Linked DNA regions of Homo sapiens: region 2 is linked to region 1. The links come from fine-mapping of genetic effects on gene expression. Tissue or cell type: testis. Region 1 holds a variant in brackets; the other region holds the start of a gene. All regions are shown on one strand. Distances are between the middles of the regions.

The links. PIP is the estimated chance that this variant, and not a neighbour inherited with it, causes the effect.
Region 2: it holds the start of MRPL23, and the variant in region 1 is fine-mapped to the expression of MRPL23 in testis (GTEx, PIP above 0.99).

What each region holds. Positions count from the first base shown.
Region 1 is chr11:2,017,954-2,020,630 of GRCh38, forward strand. No RefSeq gene overlaps it. Among named protein-coding and RNA genes, the nearest start is that of H19, 21 kb to the left of the region's middle. The variant G/A (reference allele first, on the strand shown) is at 1,294.
Region 2 is chr11:1,946,209-1,948,885 of GRCh38, forward strand. MRPL23 (mitochondrial ribosomal protein L23) reads left to right here and starts at 1,124. Exons shown (of 5, transcript NM_021134.4): 1 at 1,124-1,171. The coding sequence starts at 1,155.

The DNA.
Region 1 (2,677 bases):
CCCAACCTCCAGTCCCCTCACAGCTACCGGAATCCAAAGAAGCAAGAGAGTCCAGATAGGAGAGAAGTTTGGACTCCATTCTGGGGAGCCTGGGCGGGGGAGCTCTGTGAAGGAGCCGCAGGGTGAGCCAAGGCCAGGGTCCTCACCAGGGTGTCTGGGCCAGGGCTGCCCTCCCATTCCAAGCTCCGAGGGTGGAGGGTGAGCCCCTGGCAGTTTTGCTGCCCCTGGCCCCAGACCTGCCTGCTCCAGCACCCCTCGCCTGGCAGACCAGGGCTCAGGGAGGGGAGGCTGCACCCGCCTCAGGCAGAGTAGGGGCACAGGATGCTGATTTCTGAATCGGCAGCTGAGGCTGTTCCAAGCATCAGGGGCTCCCAGCAGGGCTGAAGAGAGGGGCTTGGAGGTGGATTCGGCCCCTACTTGGATCTGGAGTGCAGGCTAGTGGGGGTGCAGAAGGCCTAAGGGGTGAGGGGCTGCTCAGAGACGGCTGGTGTCACACACCTGAGAGAGGTGAGATGGGCAAGGAGGGGGAGGTGGGGGAGGAGAGGCGCAGCGGCGTGGGGGCAGGCACCCGAGAGATGGCAGGCCTGGGCAGCGTGGAACATTCATGTGCTGGGAAGGGGGCTTGGAAGAGGGGACCCATCAGGGACACAGCCCAGACTCACTGTCCCAGCCCCTCAACACCTCCCCCTTACCTTGGCTCCAGAAAACCCAAGGACATCGGGCTCTTTGGGGGTCCTGGTCATCCTGCACCGAGACCCCCAGAGGGACCCTGCCACCCCTCACCTCTGCTTTAGAAAACCCAAGCACAGCGGGTTCTTTGGGACCCCTGGTCATCCTGCACCCAGGCCTCCAGAGGGGCCCCGCCACAGTCCATCCCCTTCGCCCAGGTCCCCTCGGATCAGGGCCTGCCAGGGTGGTGTGGCAAAGGGGCCTGCATCGCGCCAACCTCTCGCAGCTCTCCAGCGGGTGCAGCCAGGCTCTGGCCCCCACACGCTTGGGCTTTGCTCCCTTCCCGTTTTATGAGGAATAAAAGGGGCTGTAAACCCTGCGCGTGGACAAAGTGCACCATATAAACGGCTCCTGGTAATAATGACATTTGCAGCGGTGCCCCTCAGCCAGGCATGTTCAGGGGGAGGGAGAGCCTGTCCCGGACACGCAGCATCTGGCCCCACCCCTGACAGAGGGGCAGGCACCACACACCACACACCACATACCACAGACACCACAGACACCACAGGCACGACCCTCCGAAGGACCAGCAGAGGCTGCACCTGGGGAGGCTGGGGGAGACGC[G/A]AGAACAGGGGCACTCCAAGAAAAGGCCAGGCTCCCTCTGACCCCATGTCCTCACCCCCATAGACACACACCTTCCAGCACGTGGCACTTTGTTAGGGACGTCAGTGGCTTGTGTTGCCACCTTATGAGGATAAGCAAGGCTGGGCGGTGGCTCTTTTGCCGTTTCCCTCCACGTAGCATGCCCTTGAGCCCTGGGACTCAGTTTCCCCATCTGACTCTTGGGTGTCTCACAGAGCCTTTCAAAGATTACAACGGGGCTGGGGGAAGACTGCGGCCAAGCCTGTGCCCCTTCCCTTCCTCTCACAGCTCCACAGGTGCAGATGGCCGTGGCCCTGTGCCACCCCTCTACAAACCACCAAGCCAGAGCAGGGTGGGGGTGCCAGGCCCCGGGGCTGAGGGCCACAGGAAGGCTTGGGGATTAGACGTGTTTCCCTTCCCTCTACATGCTCTGTCTCGCAGAAGCTGGCCCGGGAGGACTCCTGTCACCTTTTAAGGTGAATTTCCTATTAAGAAGATGCTTTTGTTCAGATATTGCCCAGTGGAATGTGCTTTCCTTAGTCCCACCCAGGGAAGCCAGCGGGCACCGCCTTGAGCAGTGACAGTGACCGGTAGTAGGGATCTGCCTGCGGCTGGAGGCCTCGTAGGAGACTTTCACGGAGTGCCTGGTCTCCTGAACCATCCGCGGAGGGGCAGAAGGCCCCTGGCACGTCAGATCTCTTGTCCTTGTTTAAACAAAATGGAATATTTTCCCCTTAATAAAACTCTTGGGAAGAATTGCCCATTTCTGTCTTTCAGGGACATCACCTTTCATAGAATGGCCCTGATCCCGAGTCATCCTGTAAAAATGGAATTTACAGCCAGGTGCGGTGGCGCACGCCTGTAATCCCAGAATTCTGGGAGGCCAAGGTGGGTGGATCACCTGAGGTCGGGAGTTTGAGACCAGCCTGACCAACACAGAGAAACTCCGTCTATACTAAAAGCACAAAAATTAGCTGGGCGTGGTGGCGCCTGCCTGTAATGTGAGCTAGCTGCTCGGGAGGCTGAGGCAAGAGAACCACTGGAACCCGGGAGGCGGAGGTTGCAGTGAGCGGAGATCGCGCCACTGCACTCCAGCCTGGGCAACAAGAGCAAAACTCCGTCTCAAAAAAAAAAAAAAAAAAAGGAATTAAAGGAATTTACTGCCAGTGCAGGGGTGTGCTGGGATGCTTTAACAATGGGCTCTCAGGGAGAAAACACATGCTTTGCTTTGGAGCATATTCCAGTGACCATGGTGTAAATATTCCCACCCAGGCTGATTGTCAAGCAACCCGAAATGCTGAACTCAGCAGGGGAGAGGATTGGCCATTTCAGGGTGTGGGGTGAGCGCCGGCTCCAGTGCCCCACA
Region 2 (2,677 bases), 72 kb before region 1:
AACAACCAGGACCCATGGCCCCGCTTCTTGCTCTGAAGCATGACACCCCTGCCTCTTGCTCTGAAGAACACTTAGGGTGCTGTTGGGTGCGGGAACAAGCCAGGCTTGGGGGTGGGGGGCACGGGCAGTTAAAGAGATAGATGGAGAAGTGGCCTGAATCCAGCCACCAGGCAGAGGAAACCAGGGGAGGAGGGAGAGGCCTGGGGACAGGGGAGGGAGGCTGCTGCCCTCTACTCCCGAAGGGTCCCAGCAGCCCTCCTGGCCAGCACTACCCAAGGAAAGGAGTGAGGACTGGGCCTTGGACGGGGGTCCCTGTAGAGAGGGCCTTGCCAGAGGCTGGAGGGGGCTGGCCAGAAGGGTGGAGAGGGGGTGAGCAAACGGCAAGGCCTGAAGAGGCCAGTGGCCCTCTTGGAGGAGGCGTGGTGGGAGCACCGAGGATGGACAGCGTGGCTGGTGTGGCCAGCGTGGGGGCTGCCAACCGGGCTGGCCAGAAGGGCGAGGTGAGGGGCCCTGGGGTTCCGGGCTCCCGGGTAAAAACAGCCAGATGGAGAGAGGGGCTTCAGACCCCAGGCCCGGGGACCCGCCCTCCCCAGCACTACAGCCCCGGTTCTCCACTTCCAGCTCCCAGCAGCTGCAAGCGCAGCGGTGCGGGGCCAGGCTGTGGCCTGGAGCTGCCAAAGGGCAGGGGCACGGGTGTGGGGGGCGTGCAGGCCGGGGTCCCGGGAGGCAGGGCAGACAGGCCCGAAAGAGTGCGACGGCGGCGGGAGGTCTCTGGGGCTGGGAGGGGTGCGGGCGTGGGCGGGGCGCGAGCAGCAGGGGCGCGGGCCCGGGCTTCAGGCTGTGGGGCCGGGAGTGCGGGGCGGGACTGCTGCGGCCCCGCGTCCTGTGGAGTCTGCGGCGCGGGGAGTGGGGGTCGGGGCGGGGAGGAACGTGGGGTGCGGGACAGGAGGGGGGCAGGGAGGGAGAAGAAGGCGGCGCGGGGCGGGGCGGGCGCAGGGCTGGGGACGGCACGGGCGCGCGGCACGGGCGCTGGCGCGTGCGGGGGGGGCGGCGCGGCCTCCGGAAGCGAGGGGGCGCTGTGCCAGGCGGCGGCCGTGCGGGGCGGGCGCGCTGCTCCTTCCGCCTCGCGGACCCCGGAAGCGCGCGTGGCCGCCATGGCGCGGAATGTGGTGTGAGTAGGGGTCGTCACCCCCCCGTCGCGGGGCGCCCCTTAGTGTCACAAGCAGACGGACCCCACAGGGCGCGCGGACTCCGGGGAGCGGGGTGGGCGTCCCTGGGCCGCCTCCTGGCCCGGGCGAGGCAGGGTTCTCCGGGACCCCCTGTCATGCCTTGAGACACGCGAGGCGGGTGGCGGAGGAGCCCCCCGCCAGGTTTAGGGCAACCCCAGGGGGCGGGCGTGGCCGGGCTGGGGACAGAGGGTCCGAGCCAAACCCATGGAGGCCACGGTGCCCCCGCGTGGGGAGTGGGAGGGTGGCCCGGGGTCAGGCCCGGGGCTGGTCCCGCAGCCAGGGCCGAGGGAGCTGTTTGGAGACGTTTCTGATCGTCACGGGGCGGGGGCCACGTCGGCTGTTGGGTCCAGGCGGGGAGGCCCGGGCGGCCCCCACCGCAGCGCGGGCGCGGCCTGAGGCAGAGGAGCTGGGAATCCAGATTGGGTTTGAGTGGGAAAGGGCAGCTGACCGCAGCCCTCAGGGCTTTGGGGCAGGCAGGGCGGGAGGCCCGGTTCTGCTCAGCCCAGACCCCCCACGCCCACTCTGCATGTTCTCTGGATTCCCAGGGGGCCATCGGGGCGCTGTCCTGCACCACTTCGCCCTCCCCAAATTGAAGCAGGAAGCCCTGCATATTTCTTGGTGAACGAATGACTCAGGCGTAATCAGTAGATGTGGGCTCCCGGGTGGGTTTTGGAGAACAGTAATCAGTGTTTCTGGAGAGGGACGGTCAAGGGGCCAGGGTGTGGCTTTGGAGGCCCCTGCACATAGCTGGGGAGAGAGGGGAGGGTGGCAGGTGGGACCCCCAGTGGAGGAGGCTTCCTTCAGCAGACACCTGGGACCGGTGCTGCGCGTGGCCCTGACCTTGGGGAACACCCAGCACCAAGGAAGAAAAGGTCTGAGTGAGGCCAACACTGCCCTGAGCCTCACGTGAATTCCACGCTGGCCCTTCGCCTGTCCCTGGAGAATGAGGAGGAAGTGAGGGTCAGAGGACCCGGGTGGGGTGTTCCTGAAGGGCCAAGGGTGGTGGGCCCCTGGAAACGGATCAGGTGTGGTTGCCTTGGAGGCAGCGGGGCCCGCTCGCCCAGCAGTGCACACACTCCTGTTGCCAGGGAGCCTTTGCAGGGAGCGCTGACTGGACTTGCTGTGGACTGGATGCAGCTGGGGTGGGGGTGCCGAGAGGGTGGGATCCTGGGTGAGTCACTCGTGGGGCCGTGGGGAGGCAGGCTGGTGGCAGTGAGCCAGGTTTTTGTGTTTTGAGGAAGAAGTTAGTGCAGAGTTCTACTTGAGATAGGTTACCGTGGAGGTGCTTGTGAAATCCCATGCGGAGTGCTTGGGGTGCTCCCTGGGGAGAGTGGGACTGAGGGAACTGAGGGCTGGTGGGCCCACAAGGGTTCGAGAACAAAAGAGAGGCCTTAGAGCCCTGTCCTGGGGCCCTGGGTGTCGACAGTGCAGATTGTTCCAGATCTGCA